3 separate regions of the Homo sapiens genome follow, and all the other regions are linked to region 3. Evidence: fine-mapped expression QTL. A gene starts in region 3. Each other region holds a variant in brackets. All regions are shown on one strand. Distances are between the middles of the regions.

Region 1 (8,177 bases), 59 kb before region 3:
TGGAGTCCCTGGGCCCCGAGTCACTAAGCGGGTCCCCAAGGTAGGCTTCAGAATCAAAGGGGCAGACTATTTGAAACCAGGGCCACATCACCATCATATGAGGTTCTTATCCCCATTTTAGAAATGATGAAATTGAAACCCAAACAGATGAAGTCACTTGTCCGGAGTTACATCTGATTAGCAGCAAGGGGTTGCTGAAGCACAAAGCTTGGTCTCTAGGGTAGGGGTCATAACTGGTCATCAAAAATGGGGTTGGGGCTACAGAGGCAGGCCATGGCCACTGCCCAGCTCTCCCACTCACTAAGAACCCCCACTCTGCCTCCAACCCTGAAGATGAATATTCCAAAGGCTGACACTGTCCATACCTCGGTACTAAAGGAAAAGACAGAAGGCACTCAGGGGGTTCGCACTGCAGTCCCCTTTCCTTGGCTAAGCAAACTGGGGAAATGCTGGCCTCAACAGTAACCACAGCCCTGAGCACCTGCACCTAGAGTCATTCAAGACTAGGACTCAGGTCTCCCAGCTCTGACTCCTTTCATCCTCACAATATCCTGCTTAGGAGGTGGACACCATTCTTCACTCTATTTTCTCACCTCACAGATGAGATACAGAGTGTTTAACAAGTGTGTGGAAGCGTTAACTATGATTCATCAAGATGCTTATGAAACTGCTCGGAGAAGAGCAATTGCCACTTGTTCCTGGAGACAAGTGGACCCTAAAAAAAAAGCTGGACAGCCTCTCTCCAAGCCACATAGTCAGAGATGAGATGACCAGCCCAGACCCTGACCCAGCCAGTGTGAACTCTTCCCACTTAAAGGCTGGCCTAGTGCCTCAATCTCATACCCCTGGTCGCTTGGTTCTGGCGGTCCTACTGCAAGTAATATGGCCATGGAGTGAGCACTGAGTGGGGAGGTCAGGAAACCCAGGCTGCAGGCATGACTCTGTCCTCAGCACATCAGAGAGGGATGGACTGGGGTGAGGGTTTCTTGACATAAGGTCCCCATGGGCTTCAGGGGATCCAAGAATCCTCTAAAGCAGAATGCAAAGTCTGGTGTCAATTAACGGAAGTGCATTTTTCTGGGGATGGCTTTCATCAGTGTCTCCAAGGGCTCTGTAAATCAAAAAAAGTTATGGATACCCAGAATGGGTAATCTTGGAGGCTCCTTCCATGCCCTAGTATTCCTGGGTTATATATGGGTTTAAACGTGAAGTACACTCCCCATCCTTCAAGGCCAATTCAGTGGCTGCTCTGGGAAGCTCTAACAGATTTCTTGCTTCTTTGACTGCAGGGAAAGGCTGGGAGCCCAACACCACAGAGCCTGGCAGGGTCCCTCTGCCCTGATCTCCCTCACCAGACAGCCAGCTCCCAAAAGGGGGCAGGACCAGCCCAAGGCTAAGGTAGCAGATGCCAGCACCCCATACTTGACCTCTTGTGGCTCACCGCCCCCCCCCCACAGTCTCTGTCCCCTGAAGGGGGTCTCAGGGCTGCAGAGCACAGGGGCACTGGGGCCTGGAGTCCACATCTCCCTGCTGCAGCCCTGGAGCTTTGCAGAGCCATGCTCCTTCCAGGAACCTGGTTTTCATTAAATCGGGTAAAGGAGTCGATAACCGCCAAGTCCAGGAGAGGCAAAGTTCTGCTAGAAGGCACAGGGAAGGTGAGGGAGACCAGCCTGTCTCTTGCCCTCCCTGGCTGACCGACGGCAGGGGGAGGGGAAGGCAGGGCTCCTAAGGGTCCAGCAATGGCAGCAGTCGGAGCTTGGGGGGAGAGTCGGGGGAGTCCTGGCCCAGATAATAAGCAATTGTTAATGTGATCCATATGGATCCTGACTGGCCTCTCTGTTTAACAGAATGATAATGGCAGGGAAAGAATGCTGGTCTGTGGGGAAGGGAAGGGGCAAAGTCCTCCCCGGACTTGGGGGGGTGGGGTAGGGTCATGGGGAGGAGAAGGAGGCAAATAAGGGAAAGGGAGAGGAGGAGCCCCACCCAGGGGTCTCCACCACCCAAGAGCACAGAGCTGTTTACCTGAAGGTGGCCAGATTCCATGCTATGCAGACTGCCTGGCTAAAGGCCCTTACAAAACCCCTTTTATTCAGCCAACCAATATTTATGGAGCACCCACAAGGTGTCAAGCCCTGTGGCAAGCCCACTGGGGGCAGGGCCAGGGAGTACATGCTCCATTTCAGTCAAAGCCCTGAGTGGACCCCGCCACAAAGGCGGAAGGGAGCACAGGTGCAGGCCACGGAGGGAGGAGCAAGTGACAGAAGCTCGGGGCTGGGGAGGTGATGCGGAGGAGGTGCGCATCCGAGTTGGGCCCTGAAGAATAAGGAGGTTGTGGAAAGACAGGGACAATGAGGAAGGCATTTGGCTGGAGGAACAGCGGGAGCAAAGGCAGAGAGGCGTGAAATTGCGTGGAGAGAGCCCTAGATCTCAGCAATAAAGCTGCGGCCCAGGCAGGGCAGGGAGGGGAGTCCTGATCCATAAAAAGCTGTGGCCATGGGTGAGCAGAAGAAAGGCAGGAAAGGGCTCTGCGACGCCACACTCAGTCTGGGTGGCTCTCCCCAGCCTTCGCCCAGGCTGGTACTGGAATTGACAGTTACGGGATCCTCAGCCCAGCCCTCAGCCATACCACGGCCAGAGAATCGGGCAGGGCCTCCGAAGCCAAACTCATTTCTGTGTCTCTCAGCCCCTTCTGTTTCTTCTTCTGGGGCGGGGGTGGGGGCAACAGGAATCCCCCCGAGGAATGCGGGTCCTCTAGGCCTCCCCAGGAGCAACTCCTCTGCCCCACACAGCCTAATTCCCTTTGGCCCAAAAGGGCTTCGCCCAGAAGATATTACAGCGAGGACACGAGGGTCGCTCCCGTCTGCCTTGGATGCCAATGGAATCAAGTGGAAAGAAATGAAATGGTGTTAAACATGGGAAAGGGGATTTACGAGGCCTGTCACCCGTCCAGCCCAGCCACCCCAGCAAGCCCCGCCCCTTTCCTCGCCCACCCCAGGAAGTCCCGCCCCGCCCCCTGCCCGCAGCTCGCGCGGCCGCCCGGTACCCGCGTCCCACAGCTGGGTGGCGGCGGCACCACAGCACCGGGCAGCCCGGCGCGCCCGTCCTTGGGGGCTCAGGCACAGCGGGGAATGGCGTCGGTTCCGGACTGAGAGGCTCGGGGAGGCTTTAGGAGGATGCTATGGGATTTCGGGGTAGGCTCCGGGAGGGTCTGGGACTCCCTCTGCAGGGTCAGAGGGTTTCGCACCGTGGCATCTGCGGGCCCAGCCCACTCCAGAGACTGGGCGGCTCCACAGGGGAGGCCCCACGGCCCAGGAACCGGGAAGCCCACCTGCGCCGTAAGCCCAGAGTTGGGCTGGAACCGGGTCCCCACTCC[T/A]CGCTGCCGGGCGGAAAGCAGGAGACCGCTCCGCCGCCACAGCCCGTGCGGACAACACAAACATTCTTCAGTCCTCTATTCTCCTCCAAATTAGGTATCCATGGAGACAGGGCCGGCAGCCTGACAGCCCTACGGCCTAATCCTGATTTAGTGACCGTCCCTTTAACAGCCCACCCACCCGTCCACCCACCCCTGCGCTCCGGGCCGCCGCTGGGCGCAGGGTCCAGGCCGCGCGCTCTCTGCCCCGCGCAGACCCCTTCCCAGGCCTCCTCCTCTGGCGGGGGCAGGGGGACCAGCGGGGCTGGGGAAGGGCACCAGCATTTGCTGATCACCTACAGGGTGCTCAGCAATCTGCGAAGGACCCTCTGCAGCGGCGGGGGGGTTGCTAGCATGCGAATCTCTGTGTAGAACAGGAGAGGGCTCTTGCGGTGGGGAAGTTTGAGGGGCCCTCTCTGGAGAGCTGGGCGCTCCGGGGGTCCCCCTTGTTGCCTGTAGCCCCAGGGTGAAGGTGAGTACAGCCTCCTACAACCCCCTGACTCTGAGACGCGGGCTCTGTTCTCCCGGGCCAGAGGAGAAGACATGAAGAGGGTGGGTGTTAGGGGCGCGGGGACCCTAAGTAGCCTCGGCCTCCTGTCACTGCCCCGTCACCATGCTGGGGAATCTCCGGGCCAGTAACCCAGCCCCCACCCCTCCCACACACACACACAGGGGCCGCTGGACAAAGACCTGACGGAGTGGGAGGGGCCTGCGGGCCGGCCCTCGGGCTCCGGACGCTGGATCCTTCTGGGACCCGAACCCGCAAACCTTGGCTCCCCACCCCCAGGCCAGCAGACGCCCCCGAGCCGGCTGCTCGCTTTCGCTGCAGCCCCCGCACCAGAGGGGGCTGCGAGACGGGTGCCCGTCGGCGGCCGGGCGGCTATCCCCTGCTCTGCCCGCCCCCTCCCCCCGAGAAGTGACCCTCGGCTCCCACGTACCCGCTAGGGTCTCTCGCCGGCCCTGCCCTCCGACCCCCGCCGAGCTGAACCCCGCGACTAGCAGCCCCCGCCCTCTCGGCCCTCTCCGGCCCCGGGCCGGCGGACAAAGCTCCGGACACCCTGACCGAACGGTCACCTCCCCCCGCCCCATCCCGGCCCGCCCGCGGCCCCGTACCTCGGCATCACGGCCGGGTCCTAGGTGAGTGTGCGCGGCCTGGGGGCGCGTCCGGCCCGGGGACCGGGGCGGCGGCGCGGGCCGGGGGCGACAGGCCTGGGCTGGGGGGCAGTGGCGCTCACCATCCTGGAGCCGCTGCTGCTGCGGCTGCTGCGGCCGCCGCGGGCGGGAGCGGGACTGGGCAGTGGGGGTGGCCGGACAAGGGGCGGCCCCGGCTCCCCCCGCAGGAAAGACCCCCACCCCCACCCCCGCCTCCCCTCGCCCGCCCCCAGGGCCCTCCCTCGCAGGCCCTCCCTCCCCTCCCCTTTCCCTGCTCCTCCCTCTCCTAGTGCCCCTCTCTTCCCCCAGCTCCCGCCCCTTCTCTGGCCCCTCCACCCCCGGCTTCTTCCCCGCCCTCCCCCACCTCGCCCCCGCCCCGCCCCCACCTCCCCTGGGCTCGCCCAGCCCCTCCTTGCCACCCTCCCGGCTGGCCCCGCCCCCTCCCGCCCCTGGCTCTAAAATAAATTAGCCACAGAGGGGAAAAAAGAGCAAGTGACCCTCGGTGTGGAGAGTGTCCTTCGCCACTCTCAGACCCGTCCGCCCCGCCTCTCCCGGCCGTCGGAGCGGGAAGCTGGGGTTGGGGTGGGGGTCGGGCCGGCGGGTAGGGGTGGGGGACGGCATGGGGACGGGGCCGAGGCCGGGACTGAGCAGCCCAGCCCGTCGAGCGTGTCCGCTGGATGTGGGCGGCTTCCTGGGTCGAAGGGCAAAGGGGAAGGCAGCCGGCCTGGGCCCGCCCCGTCCGCGGGCCGCCCCAGACCCCCTTTCCCAGGACTGCCTTGGCCCCCTGGCCCCAGTCTGGAGGACTCTTGCTCACTTCCTCCGCCCCCAGGTGAGCTGAGAACCCACTGCGCGCGGGACTCTGCTGCGCCTGCCCTCCCGGGCTGCAGAGGGCAGGACGCACCGCCAGGCAAGGCCGCGGCTCTGCGCTGATGCCACTCCGGGAGCGGGTGGCTGCGGGGGAGGAGGGCGAGCACTGGACGGGGGCAGCGGAGTGTAGGGTGTGAGATCTAAACAGAGGGCTCCACTGGAGGGCTTGCCCAGAAGGCGGCAGTCACACTGGGCCAAGCAGGATGACTGGCAGGAAGAAAAGATGAGGGATGAATCCCAGACCTCTAGTCCACTGAGAGTGTCCAAAGACATCCGTTCAATAGATACATACTGAGTGTTAACTTTGTGCCAAACATTGGACTGTGCACCAGGGATACCCAAGAGAGTCCAAGAGGCACAGCCCTGTCTTCCTGGAGCTCCCAGTCGAAGGGTAGACAGAATTCTGCCCGACACACACACACTCAAGGCTTCATCAGGGATAAAGGCCAGGAACCGGCTTTGCCCCAGGAGAAGGTAGGAGGAGGGCTGTGCTGATGATGGAGGGTCCAGAGAACCTTCCTGCTGTTGAGCCTCCAGATGTCCCAAGGCAATCCTGTTTCCACCCAAGGGCAGTGCTTAAGGGTCCTCTCTCCTGAGAGCTTGTTTCCCTTTTGAGTGGCTGCCTAGCCTGAGTGTCAGTAGGGCAAGATTGGCCCTCACCCACTAGCCTGTAGAACTCCAAACACTACCCCCTCCCTTCTTCTAATGCAGATTCCCCTGCAGGCTCTGGGGTCTGACAGGTCTGGGGCACTCCTTTAGGTGCCACTCAGGGAAACAGAAGGGGAGGGCCTCAGTAGCTCCCACTTCTTTTCCAGCCCACATTTGGAAGCAACCGGCACCCACGCAGGTTCTGGAACTTGCCAAGGTCAGTGTCTTTTCCACCTCCAGAATTATCTCTTCCTTGCCACTCCCCACCCCCAGGGCTCTGCCCTGGCACAGGAGGAGGGACGTGTCAAGGCTCAGAGTGCTAGAGTAGCCCCTGGCTTCAGAATCAGGCAGGATGAAGGGAGCCACAACCACCATGCTAGGAGACTGGAACCCTTGCTGGAGGAACAATCCCAGGATACCAGCTGGAAGGAACTCCTTGGCTATTTCCTTATTGTTGGAGCACTGGAGGCCCAGAGAGGAGAAGTGACACACTTGGGGTCACACAGCAAAGCTGGATCTAGAATCCACTGCACTTTTTCCACCCCTACCTGTCAGGTTCCCTGACAGCCAGAGACAGGAACTAAGGGAAAGACTAATATCCTTATGAGCTGGGTGCCTCAGCCAGCAGGATTAGTGCCAGGAAGCCAAGTCTGGCATTGCCAATGGGGATCCTGCTCCACCATGCTCCAGGGAAGGGGGGATGACAGGAGTGGGGTTGGACTGAGGCGCTCAGTGTGAAGGAAGGAATTGATCATGCGCTCCCCTGGAGCGGGGATCCGGTTCTCCTTCATCCTCTAGGAGTCCGGGAGTAAAGGAAGGACAAGCTTAAAGCTAAGGAAGGCCTTGCTAGTGAGATAGTGGAAGACACCAGCCTGCTGGATAAGGCCTTCGCTGGACTCCAGGGGCAAGACCAGCAGCTTGGCAGTACTGAGTTGTTTCCAATGGGCGGACTGCTGTGGGTGATATTAAGAGGTTTAGTTAGCAGGTGGGGGTGAGGTTGATCATTTCACCCCTCCACCTCCCACCCTGCACCAGTGCTCAGGGCGATGAAGTGTGGCTCCCCCTCCCAGAGCTCATTAAAGTCCTGTTAATACATCATCCAGCCTCCTGGGCTGACAAATACTCTGTTCATCACATCTCTACCTCCTGCCCTCTTGGGCAGGGCCCGAGAGACTGATCTCTGAGGACTCTGGGGTGACCTCACTCCTGGCTGTCCCCAGTCAAGGGATCTGTGCCCTGAGAGCCCCTGCTGAGGTGGCTGTGATCATCCCCAGGCAGGTCAAGTGCCTGGCAATGGATTGGATAATAATAGTGGTAATGATGGTGGTAATGTGTGGCTTCTGCAGAGGGCCCTCCATTCTTTCCCAGATCTTTTGCTAGTATCACACCCAAGGTGGAGAATCCCACCCCCATCCTGCCCCCAGGGGAGACAGGTGCTATGCTTGGTTGTGTGGCTGAGTGCAGGCACCTGCTGCGGGCGCATGCATGTGGGTGTGCAGCAGAAGTGTGGGAGTGTGTGACCTTCCTGGTCCAGAGACCTGCAACAAGGGCTTTCTAAAAACATTAAGAAGAAAAATAACTCCGTGGGTCTAGGGAGAATCAGCTCAAAGGATTTTGGAGGGAGGGGGGAGAGTTAGAGGGAGGAAGTAAAAGCTAGAGAGAGAGGGCGGGAGGAGCAAGTAGGGTGAGGAGGAAGGAAAGAAAAGGGCCCCGGGTTGGGGGAAGGATGGGGTGGGGGGAGGAAGGGAGAAAGAAATGGAAGAGAGGAAGAGGAAAGGGCGGGGAGGCCTCTTTGTGGTCCTCTGGACTGGCCACTCAGGAGTCATTATGAGCAGGAAAGGAAGGAAATGTGTCCTGGCTTGGGGATTGGGGTGCGTGCCCAGAGGGCACCACACCCAGCTGGGCTTCCCCCCAACCACACTTGCCCGGGACTCAGGCTGCTGTCCCCACAAATGGAAACTCTAGCCCTTCTCATTCTTGCTCTTTGCCCATCAAGGCCCAGTTCCCAGTGCCTCCCCAACCCTGATCAAACCACCCCAAAAACTCTTACTCTTCATGAACGTATACCAGCTTTGCCTTCCCACTGTGCTACAAGCTGTGT
Region 2 (8,177 bases), 26 kb before region 3:
GAGGTCAGGAGATCGAGACCATCCTGGCTAACATGGTGAAACCCCATCTCTACTAAAAATACAAAAAATTAGACGGGCGTGGTGGCAGGCACCTGTAGTCCCAGCTACTCGGGAGGCTGAGGCAGGAGAATTGCGTGAACCCGGGAGGCGGAGCTTGCAGTGAGTGGAGATCGCGCCACTGCACTCCAGCCTGGGCAACAGAGCGAGACTCCATCTCAAAACAAACAAACAAACAAACAAAAAACCTTTTTCTTCACCCTTCTCTTATTCCTCCTCTTTAAGTTAACCATGTTTTAAAGAGCATCATTTTGTCTAGAGGTTCCCCATCTGGGCTGTACATTAGAATCACATGAAGAGATTTTTAAAATCCTGTTGCCCAGGTTGTGCCCCAGACCAATAGTCTCAGAATCTCCAGAGTGGGTTCCAGGCATCACTATTTCTAAAAAGTCCTTAAGTGATTACATTGTGCCGCCAATGTTAAGAATGACCATTCTGGCCGGACACGGTGGCTCATGCCTGTAATCCCAGCACTTTAGAAGGCCAAGGCGGGTGGATCACTTGAGCCCAGGAGTTACCAGCCTGGGCAACACAGCAAGACCCCGTCTCTACAAAAAATACAAAAATTAGCTGGGCGTGCTGGCGCATGCCCGTAGTCCCAGCTACTCAGGAAGCTGAAGTGAGAGGATTGCTTGATCCCGGGGAGGTCAAGGCTGCAGTGAGCCATGATTGTACCACTGCACTCCAGCCTGAAAGACAGAGCAAGACTCTGTCTCAAAAAAAAAAAAAACCATTCCAGCTCTTTCTATGCATTTACAAAAAACACGTAAATAGCCAGACTCTCTCTCTCTCTCTCACACACACACACGCATATGTATATTGTAGAGACGGGGTCTCACTATGTTGCCCAGGCTGGTCTTGAACTCCTGGCCTCAAGTGTGTGTGTATATGTGTGTGTATATATATGTATACAGTATACTGTGTGCCTGTGTGTTTGTATGTGTGTGTGTCATTGCATTTGGCTTTTTTTCCAACCATGAACAAGGTGGCTCAGAGAGATTTTCAGGGCAAACCATGTAGATATTTATCTTCTTCTTGAAGATAAATGGAGGCATTGAATGGAGGCATAATCTACAGGTGCCTCTAACCTTTCCTCTACTGATGAACATTTAAATTGTTTCTAATTTTTTTTACTGTTACAAACAATGCTTCAAGGTATATTCAGTATGTCTTTTTAAATTTTATTTTATTATTTATTTGTATTTATTTATTTTGCAGAGACAGGGTCTCCGTGTGTTGCCCAGGCTGGTCTTGAACTCCTGGCCTCAAGCAATCCTCCTGCCTTAGCCTCCCAAAGTGCTAGCATTACAGGCATGAACCACTATGCCAGGCCTACTCAGTCTATCTTTGCTCACATATGCAAGCACTGTTTTGAAAAAGATTTCTAAAAGCAGAATTTCTGGGTCAATGTGTATGTACATTTGTTATTTTGATAGATACTGTCAAAATGCTTTCCAAAAATACTTCACTAATTTACATTCTCCCCACAGTGTAAGCACTTCATATTATTAATGTTTAATTTTTACCAAACTGATGGGCCAAAAGCAATATTTCATTGTTATTTTAATTTGCCTTTTCCTGCCTATTTGTGAGGTTAAGCATCTTTTCATATGTTTATTGGACATTTGTATTTCTTTTCTTTTTTTTTTTTTTTTTTTCGAGACAGAGTTTCGCTCTTGTTGCCCAGGCTGGAGTGCAATGGCACGATCTCAGCTCACTGCAACCTCACCTCCGCCTCCCGGGTTCAAGTGATTCTCCTGCCTCAGCCTCCCGAGTAGCTGGGATTACAGGCATGCACCAGCACACCTGACTAATTTTGTATTTTTATTGGGGATAGGGTTTCTCCATGTTGGTCAGGCTGGTCTCAAACTCCCAGCCTCAGGTGATCTGCCCACCTCCACCTCCCAAAGTGCTGGGATTACAGGTGTGAGCCACCGCGCCTGGCCTGGCCATTTGTATTTCTTTTATGAATTAATTGACCATGCTATTTGCCCATTTCCTATTGGGCTTTTTATTTTATTTATTTATTTATTTATTTATTTATTTATTTATTTATTTAATTTTGAGATGGGGTCTTGCTCTGTTGCCCAGGCTGGAGTGCAGTGGTGTAATCTCAGCTCACTGCAACCTCCATCTTCCAGGCTCAAGCCAACATTTCAGCCTACTGAGTAGCTGGGACTACAGGCACAGGCTACCATGCCTGGCTAATTTTTTTTTTTTTTTTTGGTATTTTTAATAGAGACAGGGTTTTGCCATGTTGCCCAGGTTGGTCTCTAACTCCTGGCCTCAAGTGATCTGCCTGCCTCAGCCTCCGAGAGTGTTGGGATTACAGCCGTGAGCCACCACATCTGTCTCCTATTGGGCTTTTTTGCAATTAATTAGGAATAGAGGAAATTCTATTTCCAATAATATGACTGGCTGGATTCTGGACTGATTTTTCAGCATAAGTCATGTAAAAATGCTGGTTGAAATACGCAAATTATTTTAAAAGTGTAGATGTGCTGGCCAGATAGCAAGAAAGTATTAGGTTAAAGTCTAAGGGAAGGCAGGAACTCAGAGAAACAGACAAAGGAATCCTTCTTTAGTGTGAGGATATTTGTCGAATTAGGCAAACTTGAACTTCAAATTTCACAGTCTCTATTTTTGATAGAACCAAGGTGAGGAATCTAATAGGAGATTCTCTAAAAAGCTATGACTCCAAAGGATTCATCGTTCATGTAAGATTGAACCTGAAATAAATCTATCCCGCTGTCACATCCAGAGGACTTTAATGAAAGCTGCCTCAGTGCTGAGCTGATAGCAAGGCTGTATCTCTGAGTTGTAACCACCAGCTGATCTTTGCGCTTATTTGCAGCCCTGGATGACCCAAAACTATCCAAGTTAGGTATTTAGTTTAAAGTGGTTCAGGACTGGTTAGTACCTCTACATGCCTGGCAGGAAAAAACAAAACAAAACAAAACAAAACAAAAAAACTTCATATTCTCTGAAGGAAGATACCTTAGTCCTCAGCCTCAAGAAATTTCTAACATCATTTTCTAGGGAAAATAATAAATAGCTCACAGGGGGAAAAAAAATCTCTAGGCTGGGCGTGGTGGCTCATACCTGTAATCCCAGCAGTTTGGGAGGCCAAGGCAAGAGGATCACTGGAGCCCAGGAGCTCAAGACCAGCCTGGGCAACATAGTGAGACCTCCTTTTTATAAAACAGAAAAAAAAAATTAGCTGGGCATAGTGGCAGGTGCCTGTAGTCTCAGCTACTTGGGAGGCTGAGGTGAAAGGATCACCTGATAGAGTGAGATACCACCTGATAGAGTGAGACCCTGTCTCAAAAAAAAAAAAAAAAAAAAAAGGTAAATCATAAGAAATCCATACCTAAGCATTGAAGTAAAACTTAAGAACACCAAAGACAAGAAGAAGACCTTGAAGACTTAAGAAAAGAAGGCCGGGCGCAGTGGCTCACGCCTGTAATCCCAGCACTTTGGGAGGCCGAGGCGGGCAGATCACCTGAGGCCAGGAGTTCGAGACCAGCCTGGCCAACATGGTGAAACTCCGTCTCTACTAAAAATCCAAAAAATTAGCCAGGCGTGGTGGTGGGCGCCTGTAATCCCAGCTACT[C/T]GGGAGGCTGAGGCAGGAGAATCGCTTGAATCCGGGAGGTGGAGGTTGCAGTGAGCCGAGATTGTGCCATTATACTCCAGCCTGGGAAACAAGAGTGAAACTCTGTCTCAAAAAAAAATAATTAAATTTAAAAAAAAAGAAAAGACAATCTTTAAAGGAGACACACTGAACTCTCAACAAGATAATGAAAGCCAGAACCCAGTGAAATACTTTCCACACATCATGGCACCGAACAACTGAAAAATACACAGTCTTTTAAAGCACACATGACGTATTTGGCAAAATCTGATCATATACTAGATTATAAAGCAAGTCTCGATTGATTTTAAAGATTTGACCACAGTGCTAGAAATAAGTAACAAAAATAATTTCCATATGTTTGAAAGTTATTAAAGACATTTCTAAATAATTCATTGATCAAAGAGGAAATAAAAATGGAACAACTAAAGTAGTATTCAATGGGAAATTTAAGGTCTATAAGGCTTATATTCAAAGACTTGAAGAAAGGATGAAAATTAATTAGCTACACACATATCTCAAAAAATTAGAAAATAAGAGCAATTCCACTTGTAGGTATACACTCAAGAATACTTTTTTTCTTTCTTTCTTTCTTTTTTTTTTTTTTTTTAAGACAAAGTCTCAATCCAGCGCCCAGGCTGTAGTGCAGTCATGCAATCTTGGCTTACTATAGCCTCAACCTCCCAGGCTTGGGTGATCCTCCCACCTCAGCCTCCCAAGTAGCTGGCACTACAGGTATGTGCCACTGAGCCCAGCTAATTTTTTCATTTTTAGTAGAGACAGGGCTTGGCCATGTTGCCCAGTCTGGTCTCAAACTACTGGGCTCAAGCAATCTGCCAGCTTTAGCCTCCCAAAGTTCTGAGATGACAGGTGTGAGCCACTGTGCCTGGACTCAAGGAATACTTTTTTTTTTCGAGACGGAGTTTTGCTCCTGTCACCCAGGCTGGAGTGCAGTGGCTCCATCTCGGCTCACTGCAACCTCCGCCTCTGGAGTTCAAGCGATACTCCTGCCTCAGCCTCCTGAGTAGCTGGGATTACAGGCATGTGCCACCACGCCCAGCTAATTTGGTATTTTTAGTAGAGACGGGGTTTCATCATCTTGGCCAGGCTTATCTTGAACTTCTGACCTCAGGTGATCCGCCTGCCTCAGCCTCCCAAAGTGCTGGAATTACAGGTGTGAACCACCACACCTGGCCATCAAGGAATATTTTTCCATAAACAACCATGCCTGTGTGTTCATAGTGGCAGAATTTATAATAGCAGAAACTTGGACACATCCCAAATATCCGTTAATAAGACAGTGCATAGGCTGGGTGTGGTGGCTCATGCCTGTAATCCCAGCACTTTGGGAGGCCAAGATGGGTGGATCACCTGAGATCGGGAGTTCGAGACCAGCCTGACCAACATGGTGAAACACCGTCTCTATTAAAATACAAAATTAGCTGGGCATGGTGGCGCATGCCTGTATTCCCAGCTACTCGGGAGGCTGAGGCAGGAGAATTGCTTGAACCTGGGAGGCAGAGGTTGTGGTGAGCCGAGATCGCGCCATTGCACTCCAGCCTGGACAACAAGAGCAGAACTCCGTCTCAAAAAAAAAAAAAAAAAAAAGACAGTGCATAATAACTGTGGTACATCAACGCAATAGAGTATTATACAGCAATCAAAATGAGTAGACCATAGTAACACAACAATGTGAATGAATCTTAGCAATATGATATTAAGTGATAAAAGTGGACAGCAAATGACTACATAAAGCATTATATGCTTCTAAATAAAATAGCTAAAATTGTATATGTATATATACATAATATAAATACTCTGAAGAATACATGAAGAGGTAGTAAAACAATATATAAAGGAGAGCAAAAGAATAATGGACAAGAGACTAGGATTATAGCTGCCTTGGATGAGGAGAGGCCGGGGCTATGTCAGGGAAATCATGTTAAACTGTAAAGTGTTATCAAGATTGAGGCCAGGCGCAGTGGCTCACGCCTGTATTCCCAGCACTTTGGTGGGATTGACTCACAGTTCCGCAGGGTTGGGGAGGCCTCAGGAAACTTACAATCATGGCAGAAGGGGAAGCAATCATAACCTTTTTCACAGGGCAGCAGGAAGGAGAAGTGCCATTCAAAAGGGGAAAAGCCCCTTATAAAACCATCAGATCGCTGGGCGTGGTAGCTCATGCCTGTAATCCTGGCACTTTGGGAGGCCAAGGCAGGCAGATCACCTGAGGTCAGGAGTTCAGGACCAGCCTGGCCAATGTGGTGAAATCCTGTCTATACTAATAATACAAAAAAAATTAGCCAGGCGTGGTGGCGCACGCTTGTAATCCCAGCTACTTGGAAGGCAGGAGAATCGCTTGAACCCAGGAGGCGGAGTTTGCAGTGAGCTGAGATCGCGCCATTGCACTCCAGCCTGGGCGACAGGAGCAAAACTCCGTCTCAAACAACAACAACAACAAAAACCCCATCAGATCTTGTGAGAACTCACTATCACAAAATAGCATGGGAGTAATCGCCCCTATGATTCAATTACCTCCCACTGGATCCCTCCCATGACAGGTGGGAATTACGGGAACTATAATTCAAGATGAGATTTAGTTGGGGGACACAGTCTAACCATATCAGTCCTCATATGGTGGAAGCGGTGAGGCAGCTCTCTGGGGTCTTTTTTTATAAAGGCACTAACTACCCCCTAAAAAGTCTCACCTTCTAATACCATCACCTTGGGGGCTTAGGATTTCAACATATGAATTCTGGGGGAAACAAACACTCAGATCATAGCGTATCCCATGTTCAGGGAGGAGAGAAGATCTAACATTATGAGGCAGTCAATTTTCCCCAAATTACTCTATAAATTCAAATAAATGCCTATCAAAACTGTAGCAAAAATTTTAAAAGAACCCAACAATCTTATATGCAATTTTACATGAGAGAATAAAAATCAACTTCAAAAAAGAAAATCAGATATGGAGAACTTACTCTATCAGGTAGTCAGAGAGACTACAAGGCTAGAGTAATAAAATCAGTGTAGCATTGGCACAGGAATGCCCTCATAAGATGCTATAAGATAACTGAAACATAGCATAAAACATAAAAGAGAACTCAACGTTTACATGTGATAAAAACGACACCACAAATCAAGGGAGAGAGAATTGTTTAATAGATGGAGTTATCTTGCTAAATGGAGAAAAAAATAAGGTTGGATCCTTTATTAGTCTGTTCAGGTTGCTTTAACAAAATACACAGGCTGGATGGGTTACACAACAGAAATGTATTTTCTCACAGTTCTGGAAGCTAGAAATCCAAAATCAAGGTGTCAGCAGGATTGGTCTCCAGAGAGGCCTCTCTCCTTGGCTTGTAGATGGTACCTTCTGACTGTGTCCTCACGTGTCCTTTTCTTGTGCAGGCACAGAGAGAGAGAGTTCTGGTGTCTCTTCCTCTTCTTATAAGGACAACAGTTCTATTGGATTAGGGCCCTATCCTGCCCTAATAACTTCATTTAACCTTAATTACCTCCTTAAAGGCCCTGTCTCCAAACACAGTCATTTTTGGTGTCAGGGCTTCAATATATGAATTGGGGTTGGTTGAGGGAGACACAATTTAGTCTATAACAGATTATTTCTTCAATATTATAAAAGTGAATTCCAGATGAATTAAAGACTAAATATTAAAAATAAAACTGCAAGATTAATAAAAGAAATGAAGATCTTTGTGATCTTGGAGTAGAAAATTCTTAGTAAACAAGACCCTGAACACAAAGTATAAGGAGAAATTCTGGTGAATTTAACCATATCAAAATTCAGGAGCTATTTCAATGAAGGTCACCATAGATAAAGCTAACAGAAGGGTTTATATAGTACAGTTGCCTCATCTATAACCCATCTGACAATGGCTTTATTATCTAGAATATTAAAAGAATTCCTGAAAAATCAATAAGAAAAGGATAGGAAAATTCAATAGAATACTGAGCAAAGGCCATGAACAGTCAATTCACAGGAGGGAAAACAAGATTGGCCAGCAGGGCATGTGGAGAGATGCTCACCTTGTTGATAATCAGAAAAATTCAATGTAAAATAGCAATATCGCTTTATAGTTCTATCAGATTGACAAACATTAGAAGGCTGAATAATGACATGTGTTGTCTAAGACGTAGGGAGACTCTTATGCACTGCTGGTAGGCACACATGGTGAAACAGAGTGCAACCTGAGTATCCACTCAGTAAGTGTGTATGTGCCCTGTGATCTAGTGATCTCAGAGACCCCGATGGGTCCACAACTAGATACGTATGAGGGTGTTCACTTTGGCATTATTTATAGTGACAGGAAGTTGGAGGCAACCTAAGCATCTATTGCAGGAAGAAGGGATAGGCTAAATGAGGTGGATGCACACTATGGAATTCTATAAGCAGGAAGAAAGAGGGAAGAAAGAGGGAAGAAAGAAAGAAAAAAAGTGGTGCACTCTACATCTTTCATCAAGACAGTGTTAA
Region 3 (8,177 bases):
CTCTTGGATTGGGGTGATTCTCCTGCCTCAGCCTCCCTAGTAGCTGGGCTTGCCGGTGCCCGCCACCACGCCCGGCTATTTTTTGTGTTTTTGGTAGAGATGGGGTTTCACCCTGTTGGCCTGGCTGGTCTCAGGCTCCTGACCTTAGGTGATCTGCCCACCTCAGCCTCCCAAAGTGCTGGGATTACAGGCATGAGCCACCGCGCCCGGCTTCTATAAGTTTTTTTCTATGTTTAAAACTTTTAATTTCATTTTTGTACTTAATTTTTTTTTTTTATTAAACACACACATTAGCCTAGGCTTACACAGGGTCAGGATCATCATTATCACTGTCTTCCACCTCCACATCCTGTCCCACTGGTAGGTCTTCAGGGGCAGTAATGTGTGGAACTGCTGTCTCCTGTAATAACAATGCCTTCTGGAATACTTCCTGAAGGACTTGCTTGAGGCTGCTTTAAAGTTAACTTTTTTAAAAAATAGAAGATGCACACTCTAAAATATAATAATAAAAAGTATAGGATATTAAATACATAAACCAGTAGCATTGTCATTTATCATCAAGTATTGTTTATTGAACATAGCTGTACATGCTGTATACGTTTCTATGGCTAGCAGCGCAGTGGGTTTGTTTATACCAGCATCAGCACAAACACATGAGTAATGCGATGCGTTACTACGACGTCAGTAGGCAACAGGAATTTTTTGGCTCCATTTATAATCTTATGCGACCATCATTGTATGTGTGGAATATTTTTGACTGAAACTTCATTATGCAGCAAATTACTATATTAGCAAATAAAATTGAGCTATATATAATGAAGAAGTACACATTATAACCAAGTGGGTTTATTCCAGGGATGTAAGGCCTGGTTCACTATTAGAAAATCAGTCAACATAGGCTGGGCACGGTGGCTCACGCCTCTAATCCCAGCACTTTGGGAGGCCGAGGCGGGTGGATCACCTGAGGTCGGGAGTTCAAGACCAGACTGACCAACATGGAGAAACCCCTTCTCTACTAAAAATACAAAATTAGCCAGGTGTGGTGACAGGCACCTGTAATCCTAGCTACTAGGGAGGCTGAGGCAGGAGAATCGCTTGAACCCAGGAGGCAGATATTGCAGTGAGCCGAGATCACGCCATTGTACTCCAGCCTGGGCAACAAGAGCAAAACTCTGTTTCAAAAAAAAAAAAAAAGAAAAAGAAAGAAGAGAAAATCAGTCAACATAATCTACCGTATTAACAGACTAACAAAGAGAAATTACACAATTCGTATCAGTGGATGCAGAAAAGGCATTTGACAAAATTCAATAGCCATCCATGATAAGAATACACACACACACACAAAAGAGGAATGGGGGAACTTTCTCAATCTGATATAGAGTGGCTACTACAAGAAACTTACGGCTAACATTATGATTAATAGATTGAGTGTGTTCTCCTAAGAGAAACAAGGCAAGGATGGCTGTTCTGTTTTGACCACTCTTATTCAACATAATGCTAGAAGTTTTAGCTAGTGCAGTCAGGTAAGAAAAGGAAATAAAAGATATGCATATTGGAAGGTAAGAAATAATACTGTCTCTATTTGCAGATGCAGATGACTGTCGATGTAGAAAATCCCAAAGAATCCATGAGGGGTAGAAAACCCAAATACCTCACCCCCTTGAATAAGTGAGTTCAGCAAGGTCACAGTATACAAGATCAATATGTAAAAATCGATTATATTTCTATATAATTTAATGAACAAATGGACACAAAAATTAAAAATAGCATATCCTGTTTATAATTGCTTTTAAAAAGTATAAGTGTAACAAAACACATAAAGGAGTTAAATGCTGAAAACTACAAGAACACTGATAAATAAAAGAGACCTAAATAAATGGAAAAAAAATATATCATTAAGAATTTTAAGATGGCAATGACAGCGCATTAAACCAAGCATGGGGCCCTGTGCATCTGCACAGGTCACACTCCCATGAAGCCAGCCCCGCACTAGTATCAAGAGTGATGTTTGAGTCTGGGTGGGGTGGCTTATGCCTGTAATCTCAGCACTTTGGGAGGCTGAGTGGGTGGATCAGCTGAGGTCAGGAGTTCGAGACCAGCCTGTACAACATGGTGAAACCCCGTCTCTACTAAAAATACAAACATTAGCCAGGCGTGGAGGCACGCATCTGTAATCCCAGCTACTTGGGAGACTGAGACAGGAGAATCACTTGAACCTGGGAGGCAGACCTGAGATCACGCAACTGCACTCCAGCCTGGGCGACACTGTGAGACTCCATCTCAAAAAAAAAAGAATGATGCTTGAACTTAATACTCATAGCTGGTCCTGAAAGGTGAAGGTGTCCATTGCCCTGCCTTCCTGACAGACTCCATGTCACCCACCTTCCACAGATGAGAATCTGCTTGAGGTTTCACCCCACACAGAATCTCCAGGCCTCTGCTTCCTGCAGTGTTGGGAAATCCTTCTGAGTATCTAAATCTAAATCTTTGTCCTTTGGGCCTGTTTCCTCTTGTTCTGTCCTCACTGAATATGGGGAACAGCTGGTCCCTCTGAGTAATTAATTCTTGTAGACTTGGACACAGTCTGTAATTCCTTTTCCCTTTTCTCATTGGGATGACTCTCCAGGGCTTTCTCCAACTCTGGATCTCCAACTCTGACACCTCCCCCAGGTTCTCTGTGTGCTTTGGAAGGCATGGGGTTCACAAGAGCCCCAAAGAGCACCAGTCAGGGGCCAGAGGGCTCAGTGCTCTGGGGAGATGGGGAAGATTCCAGCACTGATGAACAGACTCCAGCCCCCCCTGGGTCCTCTCTTCCAGCTCCCAAAATGTACTCTATTTTTATCTGTTTCACGAACGCTGGTCCAGATAGTCTTCCATCCCCCACTGACTGTTAGAAGTGACTCTCAGCTTTTGTCCATCTCGAAGTTTCTGTGCTCAGTGTGCCTCTCAGACTAAAGGCTTCCTTTGGGAAGCCCCGACTCTCGCTTCTCAGGACAGAGATCCAGGGGTTGGGGGAGGAAAAGGTTGACCAGAAGCCATAGCGGAGCAGGGAGAGAGAGTGTGAAAGACAGACCCGCGGCCAGGCTCCCAGTTCTCCAGCTCGTAGAGGGCCCAAGTGGCCGCTATAATCTGAAAGAGCAGATATCGTAATCCCATAGTACTTCCTATTGGCTGCAGGACACAGTTCTGTCCTGACACTGAAATTTGGGTGTGTCAGGGTTCTGGGAATTCACAACGCTCACAACTTGTGAAGCAGCTGTGGGGTGGGGGATGGGGAGGGTTTCAGCAGAGGAAGTGAGGTCAGTCAATAATTGATGCCTGTCTGAGCTTTTAGCCATTATCTCCCCCAGCCTCTATTCCTGTCAAAAGGTGGGGCGGGGCAGGAGGAGGGGTCCCTGGCTCATCTTGTAGAATCCCCATATTAGAGTAAGACACCTTAGAGGTCTACTCCTGCTTCTAATACCCACGTCTTTCCAAGTGTCTCTGAGGCCACCCCCTCCCCAGCCTTTTCATTTATTCATTTAATTAACGAACGCCTTCATTGAGGGCCTCCTCTGAGTCAGGCTCAGCCAGCCAGCATCTTTGCTATGAGCTGAGATAAGCATCATTTCCGTCTATTCTCACAACCACCCTATGAGGCTGGCACGGTTTACTATGCCTATTTAGCAGATGGGGGACTGAAGCATGGAGAGGTGTCACTAGCCTACGGTAACACAACCAGCCTGCATTCCTAGTAGGTAGTTTGACTTCAGAGTCTCTGTGGATAACCAGGAGGCTAGGACTAAGACCAGAGTCCTGCAGGTACTTAGATGGTTGGAGCAAAGCAGGGCAGTGAGGTCAGTGCTCCCAGCCTGTGCAGGAGCATCAGGAAGAGTCTGTGTCCCCCTCCCCTGCCGGTATGAAGCCATTCTGCTTCCCTCCCCAGCTGCCTTGTGTCAGCAGAGTTCCAGGGAGGCTCCATTCCCCACCTCTATCTAAAGCTCCATTTGCTGGGGTGGGGGCCCTGCCTGGAAGGGGAAGGTCCAAGGCTGCTCCCAGCGTGTCCCTCCATCCTGACTGTCCCTGGCGGGGCGGGGGTGTCTTTGTCACCCAGCTGCACAACGGCCAGGAAGGGCTCAAACCATCCTCAGGGCTAACCCAAGGCCGTCCTCTGGGCCTGTATACCCCTGTGCTGAGTGCGGATCGGGAGAGGCTGCTGAAGACAGGAGGGGACAAATGGGGGACGAAGGGGCCCGAGGGAGGGGACTGAAGGATTTGGGCCAAGTCGGGAGTTCCCGAGGGCGGAGTCAAAACGCATCTGGATTTTGCTAGCCCCAAACTCTGCCCTCATTGCTGCAAGCCTCCTAGACCGAGGACCCCCGGGCTGAGGGTGGGGTAAGGATAGGTAGTGTCCCTCCCCGTCCCACCCCCGCCTGTCCCTTCCTCGGTGGCCCCTTCCCGGCGCCCCGATTCCAGGCGGCCCCTCCGCTGCTGCCAGCCGATCCCCCTCTACCCCCACCCACTACTCCGGCCGCCAGACGTTGCCTACAGTCTCGGCTCTGTCTCCCACGGCTGTGGGTCCGGACCCCACGGGACCCCTATGGGACCCCCACAGGACCCCCACGGCCTGAGTCCAAGGCCCGCCCCCTCGGGGAGGCGGATGTGGGAGGCCCGGCCCGGGTGCGGGCCAGCGACCCGGGAGCTGCGGGCGGCTGGGAGGGGAGGCCGCCCTGAGGGGCTGGGAGCGGCGCGGGGGTGGGTCCCGGTCCTGCAGCCCCAGCGAGGGGCGAGCGGCGGCCAGTCGGCGAGCTGGGCAATAAGGAAACGGTTTATTAGGAGGGAGTGGTGGAGCTGGGCCAGGCAGGAAGACGCTGGAATAAGAAACATTTTTGCTCCAGCCCCCATCCCAGTCCCGGGAGGCTGCCGCGCCAGCTGCGCCGAGCGAGCCCCTCCCCGGCTCCAGCCCGGTCCGGGGCCGCGCCCGGACCCCAGCCCGCCGTCCAGCGCTGGCGGTGCAACTGCGGCCGCGCGGTGGAGGGGAGGTGGCCCCGGTCCGCCGAAGGCTAGCGCCCCGCCACCCGCAGAGCGGGCCCAGAGGTGAGTCGAGGTCCGCGGACGGGACCGGGTGGCGGGCGGCCTGACCCCCGCTTCAGTGGGCCCTTCCTTCGGGCGGACCCCAGAGTCACCGCAGAGTGGTCGCGGGAGGCTCAGTCCCAGCTCATTAGAAAGGCAAGCTGCTCCTGGCTGACCACGCACAGCTCCCATGACCCTACCTGAGACTTGGAGGGGAATGGACGAGACTGGACTGGAAATCAGAAACTTGGTTCTAGTCGGGTGACCTGGGGTCAGTGACTTCACTTCTCTGTTCTCCTACCCTCTTCATAAAATGGGCAGTGGGATTCCTGTCTTGCTCTACTCACATAGAAGGGATCACACGTCCTCCAGGCCGCTGGGTGGACCTGGAGTGAATGCCTACTTCCACAGCTGTTGAGCCTCCCAGCAGAGCTCACCTTTCCCAGATCAGTCCTTCCAGCTGTTGCTTGAGGAATCTGACACTATCACTCCAACCTAGGAGTCTCACCCTAGGCGCGCATGGTCAGTCACCTCCTTGCCACGACCTTCCTTCAGGATCCAGGCCAAAGGGGATCCCAGTCTCCCCCCAGGCTGGGACCCCAGATTTTTCCATGGAGGCCAGTGCTGTGAAACCCATGGCTGGGCTGGCTGCCCCAGCTCCTCTTTCCTTCTCCAAGGACAGGGGCATAATGGACAGTTGCTCTCACTCTCTCTATGTATGGCCAGCTTCTGGCTGAGTCAGGGTCTGTCCTAATACCTGTCCTCTCACCTGTCCCCCCATTTCATTGGTTTGTTAGAAATAGCTACCATTGATTGAGTACTAACTATGTAGACACTTAGATATATATATTTTTTCTCATGTAATCCTGGCCGCAACCTAGTGGAAGAGGGGTTACTATCCCCTTCCTACAGAAAAGGAAACAGACATGAATATGGGACTTGTCCAAAACTCCTTGGATGGTGGGGTGAATGGCATGGTTGGGGTCTTGATAACATTTCAGTGCTTACTGTGTACTACTTATACTCTGCTAAATAATTGTACTACATTTTACCTATGAGATAACACTATTATTATTCCCACTTTACATATGATGGGAAGCCTAAGCCTCAGAAAGTTTAAGTAACGTCTCAAATTTCATACCTCTAAGTGGCAAAGGCAGGATTTGAACCCAGGTCTCCATGCTCCAGAGCCCACACCCTAACCTCTGTGCTACACTGTGCTGCCTCCATGGTCTGCCTGAGACCTGAAAATCCAGGCATCACCTGGATGTTCCACTGCATCACCCCGCTGTGAAGGGCTAATAAATCACATGGATGAATCGTAAGGGCAACCCAATATGAACAGCTGGGTCTGCTCCTCTGCTGTTGGGGTAAGGCCTACTGAAGTGCAGAGTGAGTCCAGAAGGTTGTGCTTGATATGGCGCTTCTCCAGCCCTGTGAAGATCACTGCTGTGCTGAGCCACTGCCGTTGATGGGAGTAGGTTTTATCAATCCTTCAGGTGTGCTAGGGAGAAAAACATTGATAAGCACCTTTCGGGCATACCACTACTCTGGCTCTCCCCACCTGAGGCTCAGACTTTGACTAAGCCTATGGCAAACAGATGATTTCTGGGCAGCAACACCACCTTTGTTGCCTGGGTCAACATAGTGAGACCCTATCTCTACTAAAAATAAAACTGGGCATGGTGCTGCACCCCTGTAGTCCCTTGGGACTTGGGAGGCTGAGGTGGGAGGATCACTTGAGCCCAGGAGTTCAAGGCTACAGTGAGCTATGATTGCACCACTGCACTCCAGCCTGGGCGACTGAGCAAGACCCTGTCTCAAAAAAAATTAAAAACAAACAAAAACGCTGTCTTCATTTAAACAAATCTGAGTAGGGCACCCGTTAATAACAACAGTAGTGGGCAATTTGTACACGTCCACCGAGACCCATGTCTTTTTCTTCCTTTGAGGGACTCATCTAACCCCAAACAACTGGAGGAATAACAATGACCAAGGAATGATTTATTATCAGCAATTTAAGTTTATTAAGACACGCTCAGTGACTATGGACAAGAAACTGAACATCTCTGAGCCTCACTTTCCCCCGTTGGACTGTTGTGATGATTAAATCAGATAAACCATTCAAGTTCAGTACTTAGCACATAATTAGTACTCAGAGAAGGTTAACTGTTATTATTAAGTATTTCATAGTGTTTAGCTAACGTTTGAAATTAGTTTAACGTCTGTAATTTCTGGCCAACAATAGTGATGCTTCTGTCAGCAGGAGATCTTTCACAAAGTTTTGCTTAGAAGTGAAAGGATCCTGCCAGGCCCCAGGAGTCTGTCTGTGCTACAGTCAGATTTCAGGGTAAATCGTACAGAGTCAGCTCTGAGTTTGGACTGGTCGGGACTCAGCATCCTCCTGTACTTGATCTCACACTGGGTCCAGTTAAAAATTGGACAGTCCCAATTTTACTCCATCACATTCCCAGGATTAGACCATAGATGGGTTCTGCAGATGCAGACAGCCTCGCTCCACAGTGTCACCACGTCCCAGCTTTGGTGTTTACCCTTGGCTGTCCCTTCTGTAGTAGATGGGGAGTATCCTGGGTGGGAGTGAGTGTCCCCTCCCTCTGCATCCCACTCCCACTCACCCAGCAGGGCCCTGTACAGCAAAATGAAAGCAGAGGAACCAGACTTAGCGTTGTGCCCACACAAACTGATCAGAACTCCCTGGGGAACTTTTAAAAAATGCATGTTTCTTGCTGATTCCAGGACTGAATCAGAGTCTGGAGTGAGGGTGAAACCAGTGAATATGCTTTTCTCAGTGAGCACTTCAGGTGATTCTGATGCGTGATAAAGTAGAAGGAGGGTGGACTGGGGCACGGCCAGAGAAGTAGAGGTACGGACAGAGGATCCTAGAGGAATGCCGGATTTTAGCCTTATTGTTAGCCACTTTTTCCTTTCCACCTCAAACCCTCTCCTTTGCAGCTTTCTGGGCTAGCAAAGGCTGCCAAGGATGGCTTCCTGCTAGTACCCCAGTGGGCAGATTCAGCTCCTCTAGGGTGCTCTCTCCATCCCATCCCACCGTCAGTCCTGCCGCACAGTGCTAGCCAGAGTCCTCACTGGCTGCGGGAGGGGCA

Evidence for each region. PIP is the estimated chance that this variant, and not a neighbour inherited with it, causes the effect.
Region 1: its variant is fine-mapped to the expression of ACVRL1 in whole blood (INTERVAL, PIP above 0.99).
Region 2: its variant is fine-mapped to the expression of ACVRL1 in whole blood (TOPMed, PIP above 0.99).

Annotation. Positions count from the first base shown.
Region 1 is chr12:51,844,018-51,852,194 of GRCh38, forward strand. FIGNL2 (fidgetin like 2) reads right to left here and starts at 4,701. Exons shown (of 2, transcript NM_001384995.1): 1 at 4,523-4,701. FIGNL2-DT (FIGNL2 divergent transcript) reads left to right here and starts at 4,206. Exons shown (of 3, transcript NR_135803.1): 1 at 4,206-4,546; 2 at 6,244-6,293. RefSeq lists enhancers at 897-1,607, 1,608-2,316, 3,027-3,735, 3,934-4,925. The variant T/A (reference allele first, on the strand shown) is at 3,374.
Region 2 is chr12:51,876,411-51,884,587 of GRCh38, forward strand. No RefSeq gene overlaps it. Among named protein-coding and RNA genes, the nearest start is that of ANKRD33, 7.6 kb to the right of the region's middle. The variant C/T (reference allele first, on the strand shown) is at 3,671.
Region 3 is chr12:51,902,620-51,910,796 of GRCh38, forward strand. It overlaps ACVRL1 (activin A receptor like type 1), which reads left to right and starts at 4,885. Exons shown (of 10, transcript NM_000020.3): 1 at 4,885-5,076. RefSeq lists an enhancer at 5,046-5,554.